Regions from separate parts of the Homo sapiens genome. Here region 2 is linked to region 1. The links come from fine-mapping of genetic effects on gene expression. A gene starts in region 1. The other region holds a variant in brackets. All regions are shown on one strand. Distances are between the middles of the regions.

Region 1 (8,545 bases):
ATGAGGCAGAGGCATGAAAATGAACCTTAAGTGTCTAAGGAATGGTGTGAAGGTGCAGGTAAAATGGAGAAGGGATTGCTTACAGCCAAAATTCTTAGAATTCATAGACAAAGCATTTTCCTGTAGATGTTGTCCATGTTTTCTTTCTTCAATCCTTATTTTGGTGTCATGGGGGTGCCTTTGAAGCCCTGGAGTCCTTGACAATAGAAAAGCTTGCTGGAGTTGACATGTGGATTTGGGAGCATTCAGAAATTAATCAAAAAGCTTGAAAGTGGCCTAAGAGAGTAGCTGCAAAAGTGATTGTTGGGAAATAGCTGACCACAGCTTTATTGTTTTCCTTGAATGTGCCTCCGGGTCACGAGCCAGGCTGGGTGGCAGGCTGTGGGGGACCACAGGACTCTGTGGCCTCTTGGGCCCTGTGGGCCACAGGCTGTGGGGCGCCTGGAGCTGGTGACACAGATGGATGTTAATGTGCTGGTGATAGCCACCCTCCAGTGCCCTCCAGCCCTGTGCTGGGCCCTGGAGACCCACAGGAGGGTGAAGAGACCTGGAACAGTCCCTGTCCTCCCAGTTGCAGCTGGGGGAGGCTGAGTAGAGCCACGAACTATGGCAGCTACAATATTGGGTTGTAGAGGGCAGCAGGGCTCAGCTGGGTGGCCCCAGGAGAGGCGAGGCCCTGAGAGAAAGGCTTTCTACCCTCCAGGCTTTGGCTCCCTTGGCCTGATGACGTCCGTCCTGGTCTGCCCTGATGGGAAGACGATTGAGGCTGAGGCCGCTCATGGGACCGTCACCCGCCACTATCGGGAGCACCAGAAGGTGAGTGCAGGGCATGGGGCCTCACAATGCCCCTCTACCCCAGGGGCCTAAAGCCCACTGGGCTGAGGGCTGGAAGGACGAGCCTGACCCACCAGCCCAGGGGCGGGCAGCTGTATCTGGGCAGCCTCCTCACTAGCTGGCTCGGCTCTTGATCTCCCTGCAACCCCCGTCCCCAGGGCCGGCCCACCAGCACCAACCCCATCGCCAGCATCTTTGCCTGGACACGTGGCCTGGAGCACCGGGGGAAGCTGGATGGGAACCAAGACCTCATCAGGTGAGCATGGAGGGAGAGGCCGGAGCTGCCCAGGACAGGCTCTGGGTCCTGCCCTTGCACAGATGGGGTCTCATTCTGCCCCATCCCCATAGGTTTGCCCAGATGCTGGAGAAGGTGTGCGTGGAGACGGTGGAGAGTGGAGCCATGACCAAGGACCTGGCGGGCTGCATTCACGGCCTCAGCAAGTGCGTGGCCTGGGGTGGTAGGCAGACCCTGGGGCCATGTGGGAGGAAGCCAGGGGACCCCTCCTAAAGTCCCCCTCATGAGTCAGCTTAGCTGCAAGGGGGCCTGGGGCAGGACATGTCCACAGCCCTGAGAGACTGCTCAGGCCAGCCTCTGTAGACCAGGTCTAGTGAGTTCCTCCCCATCCCTGAGGCTGGCTACTCAGAGCTCCTTCCGACCCTGCCCACACCCCTTTCCCAGCTTCTCTCAGGAGAGCAGTTACCTGGCAAGACAGACCCTGCGGGTGCCTGCCGAATCTCGGTGGCCTCATGGTAGGGGGCTATAGCTGGCCTCTGGCCTGTAGTCTGGGTGGCAGGAGATGGCTGTTCTGATGCCCAAGCTCAGGCTGTTCCCTGGAAGGGCCTGGCTGATGGCCTTGGCAAGGCCTGGAGCCACCCCTGATGTGAGTGGTGCTCTCTCTGCAGTGTGAAGCTGAACGAGCACTTCCTGAACACCACGGACTTCCTCGACACCATCAAGAGCAACCTGGACAGAGCCCTGGGCAGGCAGTAGGGGGAGGCGCCACCCATGGCTGCAGTGGAGGGGCCAGGGCTGAGCCGGCGGGTCCTCCTGAGCGCGGCAGAGGGTGAGCCTCACAGCCCCTCTCTGGAGGCCTTTCTAGGGGATGTTTTTTTATAAGCCAGATGTTTTTAAAAGCATATGTGTGTTTCCCCTCATGGTGACGTGAGGCAGGAGCAGTGCGTTTTACCTCAGCCAGTCAGTATGTTTTGCATACTGTAATTTATATTGCCCTTGGAACACATGGTGCCATATTTAGCTACTAAAAAGCTCTTCACAAAATTGTCTGCTGTGTTTGTCCCTGAGGGGAGGAGGTAGTGGGACCCTGAGGCAGAGGCCCTGCTAGAGCTGGCAGGTTCCCCTGGGGCAGACCAGAGCACCTCAGGAAGGGGCTGCCACGGCAGGGAAGGGACCAGGCAGCCCTGGGAGCCCGCATTCCACAGGGGCCCACTGCGGAGTTCTCGGACACTCAGGGCACAGGCCTGTGGGTTCCCTGGAATTTTCTAGCATGATCCAGTTTCTGTGTCCAGTTCTCCATTCTGAGAGTCAATCAGTTCCTGATAGGTTGTCATTGATTTTTTTCTTCGTTGGTTTTAACCTTCTAAACATCTCCAGGCCACTTTCTTAGCCTTTTTCTAGGTACTAAAAAGAGGTCCTACCCACACCTGCCTCACACTTCTCCTTTCCAAGGCTGCCTGAGTTTGGAGGGGCTTGGGTGTGTGTGAACAAGGGCCCTGCATTGTCTAGGCCTGCAGTTCCCAGGCTTGGGTTCACTTTCACCATGCATTGGCAAAACTAGAAAAGTAAGCTTGTGACAAATTGTTCTCGGCCGGGCACAGTGGCGCACGCCTATAATCCCTGTACTTTGGGAGGCTGAGGTGGGTGGATCACTTGAGGCCAGGAGTTCGAGACCAGCCTGGCCAACATGGTGAAACCCCATCTCTACTCAAAATACAAAAATTAGCCAGGCGTGGTGATGCGCACCTGCAGTCCCAGCTACTCGGGAGGCTGAGGCAGGAAAATGGCTTGAACCTGGGAGGCAGAGGTTGCAGTGAGCCGAGACTGCACCACTGCACTCCAGCCTGGGTGACAGAGCAAGACTCTGTCTCAAAAAAAAAAAAAAAAAAAAAAAAAAAAAAATTGCTCTATGCAAGTTTTTTAGCCCCATGTAAAAAGGAAAAATAAAAGTTGCTCTAAAGCTACATATAATCAAAAGGACTGTCCTCTGCATAGTAAGTTCTGCAAAGCTTCTTCTTTTTGGTGTTAAAATGTCCTGGAGAAGAGTTGTATAATCTTTATAAAGTCCTGGCCAGGTGTGGTGGCTCATGCCTATAGTCCCAGCACTTTGGGAGGCCAAGGTGGGAGGATCACTTGAGCCCGGGAGTTTGAGGCTGTAGTGAGCTATGACTGCACCACTGTACTCCAGCCTGAGTAACAGAGTGAGACCCCATCTCTCAAAACCCCATCTTACAAAGTCCCTTTCCTAAATACTGGGGGGACTCCTATGGCTCCTGAAACCCGACCATTGCGGTAGACTGAGTGGCTTTGGAAGGGCTCTAGCCCTCCATCCACACTGGTGACCCCCCGCTTGCTTTTCCTGAGTAATGCCCTGAAACTCTCAGGGCTATAAGAAGAAACGTGGACTGCTGGCTCTAGCAGGCCCAGCCCCTGGGAGGAAGCTCAAGGCTTCCTGCCTCTTCTTGCCTGTCACCAGCACGGGGCTGGCAGCTCTGCAGAACGCAGCCTCTGAAGCCCAGCCTGGCATCGGGAGCTGGCTTCTTTCCTGAAGCCATGTGGGTGGGTAGGGAGGGGAAGCAGCTTTTCTCTGCAAGTGGTGGGAATACAGGGGCCGTGGCCCACACCACTCTCTTGGGCCCGGGGCAGCTGGCTATAGGCGCCTGGCCCTGCAGGGGGCCATTCCAGTGCAGAGGATGGTCTCAGCCTCCCCCGGGCCCTGGGAGAGTGCAGCCCTGCTGTGTGGGGCTGGGAAGTTTTGCTGGGAGTTCCTGCTGGGAGTGAGGGCCAGGTCCCCAAGAGCTGGGGAAAGAAGCATTTGCAGTCACCTCACTAAAGAATATTCATTTATTTATAATTATTGCTAAGTAAACTTCTCTTTTAAACAGGAACATAAAAACACAGTAGGGCTTTGCACAAGTGGAATCTCTAAACAGTTGGTTTGTATACATGTCAAAATAAGTTAGAATGGAATTTGTCCAGGAGTTTCCAAGTCACCCGAGAGGCTGTGCACCTCTTTTGAGAAGGTTAGGGAGGGGTACAGACAGGAGCCTTGCCAAGACCACCCCCCAGCTCAAACTGTGAGTTGTGCTGTTTCCTCCTCCTAGCTTTGCCCAGGTCCAAGGCACAGGGCAGGGGGCGTTCAAGTATCGAACCTCACAGAGGGCCAGTGCTGACGGCGGGGCTGGGGGAGGGAAAGGAGAGCCCCACCCTGGGGGCCAGACCTTCTCCCTTCAGTTTCCAAGACCAAGGCCACTGCACTGGCAGGAGGGAGGAGGAGGAGGAGAGGTACAGGGTTCTTTTTGGTACCAGGGGAGAAAGACGTGGGAAGAGGTAGTTGCAGGGGATGATGCCTTCTGCTCAGCAGGAGAAAATGTCTTATACAGTGACGGGGTCACTGCCACCTGAGGGTCATCATGGCGGGCACCTGGGAGGTCGTGGGGCTTCGGGGTCTGGAAGCCATACTTGGGCCACCTTGTCCACCCCTCAGTCCTGATCACAGTCACCCTGAGGCCTGGCTTGGTCCTTCACTTAAGGATCCAGCCTTGGGGGTGGCTGCGCTGCAGATTGGTTCCTCCCACCGCAGGCTGTTCCCTTCTCCGGGTTTCTAGGCTGAAGCTAGTGGCTTCATCTGTGCCTTTGGGGAAGACCCCTGCTTGCCCCTCCCCACTGAGGCCTCAGGAGGCAAGTGGGTGGGGGGGTCCGGGTGCCCTAGAGTTCCTGAATGTGCTATTTCACTGCCCTGGGCCTGTCATCTCTGGTTCCAGGGGCAGGAGCTGGCGTGGGAACAGAGGGGAAGAGAGCAGGCGAGCGAGGGAGCTAGCTGTTGGCTGAGCAGAGTCAGCAGCCCTGACAGCCGAGGATGGGACATGGGACAGAGCAAGTCAGCGACTGCAGGAGCCAGGCAGGGGTGGAGGGCTTCCCAGCTCTGCCTTCTCCTGCCTCCCACCCCAGCCTGCTGAGGCTGCTGCCAGCGGCTGCACCTCCAGGGCCAGGGTGACAGTCCCCATGGAGCCCCAGTCCTGCCCGGCCAGGCTGCTCGGGGTGGGTGGGTAGGAAGCACGCACAGCACATTAGGAAGCTTACGCTTGGAAAAAGAAAATGCATCTCCATCAGAAAAGGTCATAGGTGACACACAGTTGGAAAGAAAAAAATAATAAGTTACCTTCAGAAGACCCCCTTTGCTCAAAAAAACCCTTGATTTCCCTCTGTGGGCTTTACTTTCCTTTTTAAAATACGTTGCTCTTTCCGGGAAGCTGCTGACTCGTGGCTATCCCCGTCGCAAGGTGGACACTGAGGAATGAGAAATGACTGCGGTCCCCCTCCCCGACAGGTGGTCCTGGGCCTCCCCCAAGGACAGCCCTTCTTGGTCCCCTGTGATGCCCTCACTCCGCCCTGCCCTGCCCCATGCTTCTGGTTTTGTTAGTGTGTGCCTGACGCGGGGCCTGTCCTGGCTTTGTTCCTAGTGGGGCCCCCTGGTGAGGCACTCCAGCTAGGGTCGAAGTGGACGACATGTGTTGCAATCCACTGTAGGGACACTCACTTCCAGAAAGGGATGTAGGACAGGGGTCTTCTGGGGGCTGGGTGCCCCCCAGCTGTCCTGCAGGCCAGGGCCAGGGCCACGTGCACACCTGGCTTGAGGAGCGCATGGGAGACCCCGGGAGGTAGAAGGCAGAGTGCCCTGCCTGGCGGTCCGTCGACAGGGCGGGGAAGGGGGCCTGGACAAGGTAGAGGTGGGCAGTACTGGCCAGAGGGGAGCTCAGACATCCTTAGAGGCAGGAGTTGGCCGTGAAAAAGACATGGCTCAAGTGGTCTCTTCTTCCAGTGTCAGGACCCCTGAAGAGCTCTGCTGGGCCTGGAGAGACCCCGAGGGCCGGTGCCCTTGTGACCTGTCCCCAGTGGCCCCACTTCTCCCACTCCCCACGGAAGCAGGCCAGGGAGACCCAGATCTGGGCCTCGCGTGTTCTCCTTCCCTTGCTGGGATGCCTGGGCCTGTGCTGGCTCACAGCCGGGGCCAGTAGTACAGTCTCCATTTGGTCTAAAGGTCCCTAGTGGTGCAAATGACTCGGGGAGGGAGGGCTCAGAACAGTGGGGCAGTAGCTTGTTTCTCGGCTGCAGGAGGTGCAGCCTGCAGCCCATGGGTCTCACCCCCATGCCCTCGCCCCCGGCCCCCGTTAGGGGTGGCCCAGCTTGCGCTATAGCACATTGTAGTAGGCCATCTCTTTCATGGCCTGTTCAGTGAGGACACTGGCCTCGGCGCTGCTGTCCACGCTCGCATAGCTGTAGGCGTTCTCCTCGAAGTCCTCCATCTCCTGCTGGCCGTCGAGCTCTGAAGGGTCAGTGCCTGTCAGCTCCATCATGGGGTCTGTAAGAGAGGGGCACAGTCAGACCTGGCTGCCATCTCTCGGGAGGAGCCAGTCACCCCCACGCAGGAAGCTGATGGCCTTTCTAAAGAGAGGGCTTCCCAGTCACGGCCTCCAGGAGTCTCAGCTGCCTCTCAGCCTTCCCACCCTCGGACGCCTCAGGGTCCTGTGGCTTCTAGCTGGGTGACCAGACCTAGGCCCCAAAGCTGAGTGTGGGGGAGTGGGTGCTATCAGTGAGGGCCTTTGTGGTGGAGAACTGCAGGCCTGGCCTTGAAGCCTTCTTTGGGTCATTCTTCCATTGACCCGTCAAAGTCACTAAGCCCTACTTATCCCTTCTCTGCAATGTTTCTCTGGCCACGGGAAGCTGCCTGCGTGACATCACCTTTGCAGCACTCATTAGCACCTGCTGCATGCCAGCCACTTCGCAGGCCTCGCCTCATCCAGCAATCACAACAGCCCCATTTAGCAGCTCAGAAGGCTGAGGTTTAGAGAGGTGAATCAACTTGCCAAAGGTCACCCAGCACATGCTGTTGTTCTGAGCCACTGTGCTGCTCTGCCTCACACTGCGGGAGGGTGAGGCCTCCTGCCGGCAGCTGTGCTTTTCTGTTGGTTCTAGCCATTGGTATCCTTGGGCCTGGCTCTCCAGGGACAAACACTCAGGGTAGGTTCATAAAGATATGTCAGGCAAAAACTCCTAAGAGGCCCCTTATAATTTTATAAAATTGAAATCTCATTATAAAGCTCTTACAGGGGAAGCCCAGGGTAGGATCTGGGGGAACTGGGAGGCTGGCAGGGGCTGTGGCTGGCCCCCAAAGTGCATTCTGGCCCTGTCCGCTGAGATGTGCGTGTTTTGGGGGAAACAGACCCCAGGCTGGGGGCAGCCCTGACAGGTCTAAGGCAGACTTTCTCAACCTTGGCACTTAGGGCCATAATTCTTTGTTGTGAGGCTGTCCTGTGCATTGTAGGATGTTTGACAGCATCCCTGGCCTCTACCCATGAGATGCCAGTAGCATCACCCCAGTTGTGACAACCATAAATGTCTCCAAACATGGCCAACTGTCACCTGGAAGACAAACTCATGCTCAGTTGAGAACCACTGGTCTAAGAGTAATCCCATCCCTTCCCAATTAGTGGTTCAGGAATAGGCACGTGACCCAATCCTGTTGAATGGGTCATGAGGAAAGGCCTGCTAGTAAGTTCTTAGCACCTTCTCATTGGTGTCAGAGAGCTAAGGGGAGCAGGCTGTCACTCTTCCACTGGATGTGAACAAGGAAGCACACACCCTGACGGCCACTGGCAGCCATCTTGTGACCATGAGGATATTCGCAGCTAATGCTGTGGACAGAGGAAGCCTCACCCTGATGTCACTGTTGGCAAGCTGAATCAGCCAGCTCTGAAGAGGGCCTAGACTTTGAACCATTTCTTTTCTCTTCTTTTTTTTTTTTTTTTTGAGACCGAGTTTCGCTCTTGTTGCCCAGGCTGGAGTGCAATGGTGCAATCTTGGCTCATCACAACCTCCACCTCCTGGGGTCAAGCGATTCTCCTGCCTCAGCCTCCCAAGTAGCTGAGATTACAGGCATGCGCCACCATACCCGGCTAATTTTTTTTGTATTTTTAGTAGAGACGGGGTTTCTCCATGTTGGTCAGGCTGGTCTTGAACTCCCAATCTCAGGTGATCCGCCTGCCTCGGCCTCTCAAAGTGCTGGGATTACAGGCGTGAGCCACTGCGCCTGGCCCCATTTCTTTTCTTTTTTTGACAAGGTCTTGCTCTATTGCCAAGGCTGGGGTGCAGTGGTGCAATCATGGCTCACTGCAGCCTCAAACTCAAAGTGATCCTCCCAACTCAACCTCCCGAGTAGCTGGGACGATAGGTGTGCGCTACCACACCTGGTCTTGAGCCATTTCTTAATGGATTTCCTTATTGTTTAGGCCAGTCTGAATGGGTATCTGTTACTTGTGCCTGTAGCATCTAACCCACTGTGAGTCTTCCGGACTTTATAAAACAAGGTCACTTGACCCATATCTTATAGATTTGGGCTGTTTCTTCCCTCAGTCCTAGTGCCACACCCTCATGTTACACAGCTGGTTTCAAAAACAAGCTAAATAAAGCACCTTG
Region 2 (8,545 bases), 22 kb before region 1:
GGAGAATCTCTTGAACCCGGGAGGTGGAGGTTGCAGTGAGCTGAGATCGCGCCACTGCACTCCAGCCTGGCGACAGAGCAAGAGTCCATCTCAAAAAATAAAAATAAATAAAAATAAATAATAAAAACTACCTGGGCATGGTGGTGCACACCTGTAATCTCAGCTACTCAGGAGGCTGAGGCAGGAGAATTGCTTGAACCTGGGAGGTGGAGGTCATAGTGAGCTGAGATCATGCCACTGCACTCCAGACTGGGTGACAAAGTGAGACTCCATCTCAAAAAAAAAAAAAAAAAAGAGAAACAAACAAGCCAAAAAACACTCAGTCCATAGCAGCCACCAAGTGTGAGTTGGGTCTGGCTGTGGGCAGTACAGAACCTGTGTGGTGGAGGGAGGGGACAACGCGAGGGCACCGAGGCAGTGACAATTCAGGAGAATGCTACATTTAGGGATCCTGGGGAGGGGGAAATAGCAGACGAGAAGAGAGGGAGGTGGAGGCCATGGACTGTTAGAAGCTGTTCAGAGTTGCTTGTGTATGGCGTGGGAAGCTCCTGTGGGTATCTGAGCTGTGGAGTAGCTGCTCAGGACTGGGCTTTGGGAGGACAGTGCTGGAAGCAGCAGGTAGGGCAGATTGGGTGGGGGAGGGGGCACAGACAGCTGGCAGGGAAATAAGTTTGGAGATGACCATAAATAGCTCTGCTGTCAACGCCTCTCCCACAACTCTCTCCTCCTCCTATTCTCTGATTTCTAATAATGGCTGTGCCATTCTTCCAGCCCCAGGGATGGAAGTCTGAGTCACTCTGACTCCTCCCCCGGCCATGCCCCATGTCAAACCAGCTACAATTCCTGCTGATTCTATCTCCTCTATACCATCTCTGGAGTCCTGCCTCTCTTGGGGGTTCCGCCAGCACCCTGTGTCAGGCCTGTCCCTAGCTCAGGAACTCTTGTCTCCCTTCCCCAGGCTCTATCCCAATACCCTCTCACCACTGTTGCCAAATGTTACTGTCTGCCTATTGCACACCACAAAACGAATGCCCTGGAATGTTGGCTGGATGAAATGTGAGTCCCCGCGGGATTCACTCCTGTAATGCCAGCACTTTGGGAGGCCAAGGTGGGAGGATCACTTGAGCCCAGGAGTTCCAGAACAGCCTGGGAAACATGCTGAAACCCTGTCTCTACAAAAAATGCAAAAATTAGCCAGGCATGCACCTGTAGTCCCAGCTACTCGGGAAGCTGAGGAGGGAGGATTGCTTGGGCCTGGGAGGTCGAGGCTGCGGTGAGCTGAGATTGCACCACTGCACCACTGCACCACTGCACTCCAACCTGGGCAAAGAGTGAGACCCTGTCTCGAAAGAAAGAAAGAAAAAGACTGGTGCGGTGGCTTGTGCCTGTAATTCCAGCTACTTGGGAGACTGAAGCAAGAGAATCACTTGAACCTCGGAGGCAGAGGTTGCCCTGAGCTGAGATCACACTGCTGCACTCCAGCCTGGGCAACAGAGCAAGACTCCATCTCAAAAATAAAATAAAATAAAATAAAATAAAATAAAATAAAATAAAAGAGCCTGGGCGTGGTGGCTCATGCCTGTAATCCTAGCACTTTGGGAGGCCGAGGTGGGCTGATCACCTGAAGTCAGGAGTTCAAGACCAGCCTGGCCAACATGGTGAAACCCCCATCTCTACTCAAAATACAAAAATTAGCTGGGCATGGTGGTGCGTACCTGTAATCCCAGCTACTTGAGAGGCTGAGACAGGAGAATTGCTTGAACCTCGGAGGCAGAGGTTGCAGTGAGCCGAGTCCCACCATTGCATACCAGCCTGGGCAACAGAGCAAGACTCTGTCTCCAAAGAAAAAAGAAAAAGAAATGTGAGTCCCTGACTGCTCCCAGCTGTCCTGTCCGGCCTCCCCCCAGACCTCAGAGCTCTTTGAAGAGGCAGCTAGATGGACGCTCCTCCCCCAGGCTCTCCAGGGGCCCCTGCATCCGAGGTGCTTTTCTCCTTGCCAGATGTTTCAAGCGTCATCTACACTCCTCTTGGGACACTTTCTTTCTTTTTTTTTTTTAAAATAGAGATTAAGGTCTCACTCTGCTGACCAAGCTGGTCTCAAACTCCTGAGCTCAAGGAGTTTGCCTTGACCTCCCAAAGTGCTGGGATTACAGGTGTGAGCCACCACGCCCAGCAGACATTTTTCTCTTGTGCCTGGGTTTATGGTGATTGTATACATGTGTGTCTGGCTCCCAGAGGGTGGGGACGGAGTGATACAAATTTTTGTGCCTCCACAGGGAACTTGCACGTGACCTAAATTCAATGACAAATTGGGGTTTGATTGAAAATGTGGAGGGGTGGAAATTTTCAATTCCACTGACCCCAGATGGGAGGATCTGAGCCCCTTTCCTTTAAACACCATCTTTCTCTGCAGCAGCTTTCAGGGCCAATAGTTACCATCACCAGGAATTCCAGACCAGCACAATAAATAGGGGCTGTGGTTTCTCCCTCTTTCTCCTTCAAAAAGTAACAGAAAAAAAATTAGCCGGGCATGGTTGCATGTTCTTGTTGTCCAAGCTACTGAGGAGGCTAAGGTGGGAGGATCACTTGAGCCCGGGAGGTCGAGGCTTCAGGGAGCCATGATCATACCATTGCACTCCAGCCTGGGCAACAGAGTGAGACCCTGTCTCGGAAAAAACAAAAAAACAGTAATGGAATATGGGCCAGGTATGTTGATTTGAACTGGAGTTTTACTGCTTCCCAGCAGTGTGACATTGAGCAAGTGTGGTAACCTCTACGAGCCAAATGGAGCTGGCATCAGCTGCCTCACCAAACAGGATTTACGGGAAAGGCTGGCGTGGAGCTGGGGCCCTGGGAGGCAGGTAGTTAGAATCCGTTTAAAGATTTTGCCTCAATTGCCTCCAGCTGCTGCTGTGCTTACAAGGCACACAAGTGCTCCCCCTCTGATCCCTCAGCAGGCAAAGACCAGACTCTGGAACACACCTACAGTGCTGCCTCTGGCCAGGCCTCTGAGATATGAGTCCAACATGCAGAGAAAGGGGCAAGTCCTTGGTGGGGGGAGGGGGACAGCAATTTCATTACCGCCATTTCAGAGGTGGCAGTATGGGTGGCTGACATACGTAAGTCTGATTGTTTGGACCAGAAGGATCTTCAGGGGTCCAGTCTTCCAGTTTACAGGTGTGGACATTGAGATCCAGGCACCTGATAATACCAGGTTGGCAGGAAAGTCAAATGCCAGAGGCTTCCATGGTCTCTACTTGTGTTTGGAGCAACAGAATTCTGAACAGAGTCAAAGGGATAAGGGGTCTTTCTGGCACAAGCTGGCCCAAGACCAGGCCTTTGACAGAGGCCTCAGACTCTGGGGGGCCCAAAAGCAGCCCTCCCTTGGGCTCAGCCTTCTGGATCCCATGGCCAGAGTAGTAGTTCTGCCGGCTAGGACTTGGTGAGGGGAGCTTTGAAGTCACTAGTTGAAGGTCACCTTCCTGGTCCAGCTCCACCTGGCAATGTTGACTGTGAGGTAGTGGAGGGGAGGGCTGAGAACACAGAAGAGAAAGGTTGCTCCTATTTGGAGTGAATTAGCGTGACTGGGAAAGCAGAGAAGGGAAAGAGGTCAGGTTTTTCCAAATAAAACCCAGCCCTCAGCTGGTGTCTTAGTTTAAGAAAACAGATGAAGAGAGAAACTTTGTTTGTGGCAGAATCAATTACAACTGTCTTTTGTGGCCAGGTGCAGTGGCTCACACCTGTAATCCCAGTGCTTTGCGAGGCCGAGGCGGGAGGATCATTTAAGCTTAGGAGCTGGAGACCAGCCTGGGCAACATAGTGAGATCCCCCCATCTCTATTTTTAATTAAAACAAACAAACAAACCCATCTTTTATATGCAAACAGGCAAAAATGGAACTGTTTCTACTGTGGCTGTTTGACTACTCTAGGGTCTCAGAAAACAACACCCCAAAATGCAGGCCTCAGGAGCAGCTCTCTCTGACCCTCTCCCTCCCTCCTGTCTTTGGCCCCTCACTCTCCTCCGAGGCCAGCCATAGAAACTGGAATCCTTCTTCCTCAAGGCAGGTCATAGAAACCAGAGCCCTTCTCCCCCAAAGCCAGACATCGAACCCAAAAATATTACTCTTTCTCCCACACATTTCTGGGTAAAAACTGGCCATAAATTATCTGACCTACCTTGTTTGCTTGCAGGTCCTAAGACCCCTCCATCCCAGAGAGAGTCCTGCCCCGTACTCAGAAGGAAGGAATGCTGCAGAGAAAGGTCAAGAAGAATCTACACGGACAGGACTTGCTGGGTTTCCCCACTCAGGTTATTGGCCTTCTGGTCCAATCATATTTCTTTTTTCGTGGTTTTTTTTTTTTTTTTTTGAGACGGAGTCTCACTCTGTTGCCCAGGCTGGAGTGCAGTGGCATGATCTCAGCTCACTGCAATCTCTGCCTCTCAGGTTCAAGTGATTCTCCCGCCTCAGCCTCCTGAGTAGCTGGGATTACAGGCGCGCGCCACCATGCCCGATCAATTTTTGTATTTTTAGTAGAGACAGGGGTTTCATTATGTTAGCCAGCCTGGTCTCGAACTCCTGACTTCAAGTGATCCGCCTGCCTCGACCTCCCAAAAGTTCTAGGATTACAGACGTGAGCCACCGCGCCCGGCCCAAAGTGAGATTTCAACTCTCTCTACACCAGCTGGACCTGACAGCGGACTCGCGGAGGCGCAGACGCCGCCGGCGGTCTTAGCTCAAGAATGAAGCAGCCGCACTGGGCTAATGCGCCTTTGGGTTCAGCCCGGCAGGCGAGGGAAGCAAGAGTTCGCTCAGATTGGCTTTTGGGTTTAAGCTAAAGCGTCAGAAACTGACATCCAGGTTTACATGGGGCATCCTGGAGAGGGTCAGCCTCGCAAGCGGCTCTGCTAATCCCCCAGCCCTGATCCCGCTCGCGGGTCCCGGTGGGTCTCACGCCTGTAGCTCCTGCGGAGCTGGGCTTTCAGCGGCGCCCAGAGAAGCACCAGCCGGGCCTGGCCGCCGGGTCCCGGCTCCCGCGGG[A/T]CGCTGGAGGCGTCGGCGGCCCTGGCCCCGCCTCCTCCCCGGCAAGGCCCAATGGGGCGGCAGGCCCGGCAGCCCCGCCCCGGTGGTGCCCGCGCGGCCAGCGCCCGCCAGGCCCAGCGTTAGCCCGCGGCCAGGCAGCCGGGAGGAGCGGCGCGCGCTCGGACCTCTCCCGCCCTGCTCGTTCGCTCTCCAGCTTGGGATGGCCGGCTACCTGCGGGTCGTGCGCTCGCTCTGCAGAGCCTCAGGCTCGCGGCCGGCCTGGGCGCCGGCGGCCCTGACAGCCCCCACCTCGCAAGAGCAGCCGCGGCGCCACTGTGAGTGCCGCGCGGAGGGTCCAGGCAGGCGCGCGCCCCCAGCTGCGACGTGGCGGCTTCCCAGGCTGGGGCCGGGAAGCACGTCCCGCCAGCCCGCAGCCCGGGGACGGCGGGGTCAGGCGCACAAAGGGCCGCGGGGCAGCTTCGCTCCGCGCTCCCCCGCCCGGCGCTTCCCGGCCGTGCCAGGCGCTGGGGTGGGGACTTGAGGGACGGTGGCAACTGGTGGCCCGGGCGACGGCCAGCTCTGCGCGGGCGGGGGCTCGGGGCTGCCGCGCGCCCCTAGGTATTTCGGGAGGGGGTCCTGAGAGTGTCCCGGACCCGAAGGGTGGCCTGCCCGCCCTGCGCCCCTGGAACGAGACGAGCACCCGTGGGGGGCTGGAGCACCCCGCGCGCTCCCCTGGCGAGAGGGAGGGTCGTGGCTCGGCCCCTGCTCAGACAAAGGCTGGGAGGCGGGAGACATGCACTTCCCCTTCCTTTTCAGCCAGGCGCGCGCTGATACCAGGCCCACGTCAGCTATTTTTGGAGCCTTTTACACGACAGCTGGAGGAGCGTCCTTTTTAATTTTCCCCTTTTGTTTGGCCGCCCCCACCCCCACCCCTTCGCCTTCATCGCTGCACTTGAGGCTCCATCCTGGGGCCTCTCCTTGACTTGACCTGCCTTGGCAGGCACATGCCCTCCCTGCCTGGCTCACTCGCCGCAGAGACCTGGCAGCCCGCGCAAAATGTCACTTTGCGGAATCGTTCCCACGGCTTCTGGGTACCCTTAGTTCCCTGCTTAGGAGGGAAGACAGTAGTCGGGTCGTAATAAGCAAGACTTAGCCCGAGCCTCCGTTGCCAACGCAGGCTGCCTTGCTTGGCGTGTGGGCATCGGCCTGCCCCCTCACCCTGGCTACCCAACACAGCTACAAAAGGCAGGGAACAATGTAGGTCCCTTGGCCCTGCCTAATGCCTGTTGCCATGGAAACCCCTATCCTAATCTGGCCAGGAGCCCCTTGCAGTGAGCCAGGAGAGTGAGGAAGAGGGGATGGGGCCCGCTGGCCCTGACCTGGCCAGAGGAGGTAATGGTTAACCGGATTGTGGGAGCAGCTGACTAGAGCCGGGGGGGTAGGGAGGCTTGGGCCCCAGTCCTACCTTCCCTGCCAAGGAGAAAGGGGCATGTCTGCTTTTGTACCTCTGGGAATCTACCTCAGGGATCTGCCCAACAACTCCCAGGTTCCAAGTGCCCCAGGACCCAAAGATTCCCATATAGCACACCACCTTCAGCAAAAATATGGTGGAAGTTAGCCACATTCTTTAATTCTCCCTTTTTTTCTGCCTTGATGGTAAAAAAAAAAAAAAGAAACAAACAACCCGAAAAACACACACAAACAGGAACACAAAGCGCCTTTTAAGGGTCCTGAATTTGGATACAGAAAAAGCAGTCAGTTGCAGGCCCTTCTAGAAGTCCCCATGTGGGTTGGTTATGAATGGGGAAATTGCTTGGTGTTGGAGTTGGACATCAGACTCTACAGTTGCGACTCTGCCAGCTTGTTACCTGGCAACGCAGCTGGAGACAGAATACTTGGCATTCCCCTTGATGACAAGGAAAGAATATTTTGGGGCTAAAAGAGCCCCGTGTCTTTGCTGCCTGGTAATTCCTGCACGCATCTTTTCCTATTTTGCAACGCCATAGGCTTCCAGCGACTGCTGGTGATGTTTCTGGTAAGTTAGAGCTTGGGGCAGTGCGGACCAGTTCTGTGAACGGCTCAGTGGCAGAATTACTTATCTAGCCTTCCTTCACTCCTAACCCAGAAACTTCTTAATTCTTGCCCCTTAAGTGTGCAGATCTTTCTGCCACGTCAGATAAGGCCCTAGCTGCCCTGCCAGAGCTGATTGGGGTGGTTGTGTTTAGGCCTAGTAGGTACTGAGGAAAAGCCTCTTTGGAATGGCTGAGGCCTGCTCCCACATCTTCTGTGTGAAGTTGAGGGCCCTTGGGCTGGTTCCATTCAGGGTATGAGGTGCTGGAAACTGCTCTCAGATTACTGGAAGCCAGGGTCTGTGGCCTTCCCTGGGGTTTATACTCTGTAAACCCATGTTAAAAATACCAGCAGATTGCAAATATTAGTACACTGTAGGTTGTAAGCTTCTTCAGGGCATGGGGCCTATTGCTGGAGAGAGATGCCACCCGTGTACATCTGGTGCAGGCTGCTGGTAAGAACTCACTGGCCCCTGTGTGGCAATGCATACCAGATGGGTGAGAGGGGAGGAAACACATTCAGTGAAACAGAAGGTGAGGGCAGGGCAGCCCTGACCACAGATGGAGTTGACTTCAACTTGACCTTTATTTATGTCTTTGACAAAAGTAGTATACTCCTACTTTGTGCCAGACACCATGCCGGGTGCTGGGGATAGAGCTGGGAATAAAACCAGCAGAGACTCTTTCAAAACCCTTAGGAGCTCAAATTCTGATGTGGGAGGGGGCAGACAGTAAGCAAGATAGATGTTGACTAGTATGATATATGGGTACAAGAGCTAAGGAAGGCCAGGCACTGTGGCTTACACCTGTAATCCCAGAATTTTGGGGGGCTGAGGTGGGAGGATTGCTTGAGGCTGGGAGCTCCAGACCAGCCTGGGCAATATAGTGAGACCCCATCTCTACAAAAATAAAAAATAAAATTAGCCAGGCACGATGGTGCATGTCTGTGGTCTTAGCTACTCAGGAGGATCATTTGAGCCCAGGAGGTCAAGGCTGCAGTGAGGTACAATTGTGCCACTGCACTCTAGCCTGGGTGACAAAGCAAGACCCTGCCTCCCCCTTCTCCCCCCAAAAAGAGAAGAGCTAAGGAGAAACAGGCAAGAAAGGTGTGTGCACAAAAGTTTGTATAGGGCAGCCAGAAAAGTCCTCACTGAAGGAATCGCTGAGGAGGGGAGGAAGCAGGCCATTTTCGGTATTGGGGGAAGAGGGACTCGCAGGTGCCAAGGGCATGATGGAAGAGCAGAGAGGATGGTGCGAAGGCTGGCTCAGCAGGCACCAGGTGGAGTGACAGGATGAGGTTCGGCAGTGGGGTCTGTAGAGGGCTCACAGGCCATTTTTGAGAGCTTTCGCTTTTACTTTGCAGGGTTTTGAGAGGAGTATCGTTACCTGATTTCCATCTTATCGGGAGCATTCTAGCTTCAGGGACCTGGCAAGAGAGGATGATGGCTTGGACCTGG

What was found. PIP is the estimated chance that this variant, and not a neighbour inherited with it, causes the effect.
Region 2: its variant is fine-mapped to the expression of ZNF710-AS1 in tibial nerve (GTEx, PIP above 0.99). The same link has a PIP of 0.9 or more in fibroblasts.

The regions. Positions count from the first base shown.
Region 1 is chr15:90,077,546-90,086,090 of GRCh38, reverse strand. It overlaps ZNF710-AS1 (ZNF710 antisense RNA 1), which reads left to right and starts at 3,884. Exons shown (of 2, transcript NR_146321.1): 1 at 3,884-4,652. ZNF710 (zinc finger protein 710) reads right to left here. Exons shown (of 5, transcript NM_198526.4): 5 at 3,900-6,431. The coding sequence ends at 6,262. It overlaps IDH2 (isocitrate dehydrogenase (NADP(+)) 2), which reads left to right. Exons shown (of 11, transcript NM_002168.4): 8 at 704-816; 9 at 993-1,090; 10 at 1,183-1,275; 11 at 1,738-3,046. The coding sequence ends at 1,825. RefSeq lists enhancers at 1,112-1,612, 1,613-2,113.
Region 2 is chr15:90,099,085-90,107,629 of GRCh38, reverse strand. IDH2 (isocitrate dehydrogenase (NADP(+)) 2) reads left to right here and starts at 5,162. Exons shown (of 11, transcript NM_002168.4): 1 at 5,162-5,354. The coding sequence starts at 5,240. IDH2-DT (IDH2 divergent transcript) reads right to left here and starts at 5,498. Exons shown (of 3, transcript NR_149130.1): 1 at 5,252-5,498; 2 at 4,178-4,250. RefSeq lists silencers at 4,952-5,411, 5,732-5,801, 6,292-6,381, 6,442-6,491 and enhancers at 5,026-5,880, 5,881-6,736. The variant A/T (reference allele first, on the strand shown) is at 5,041.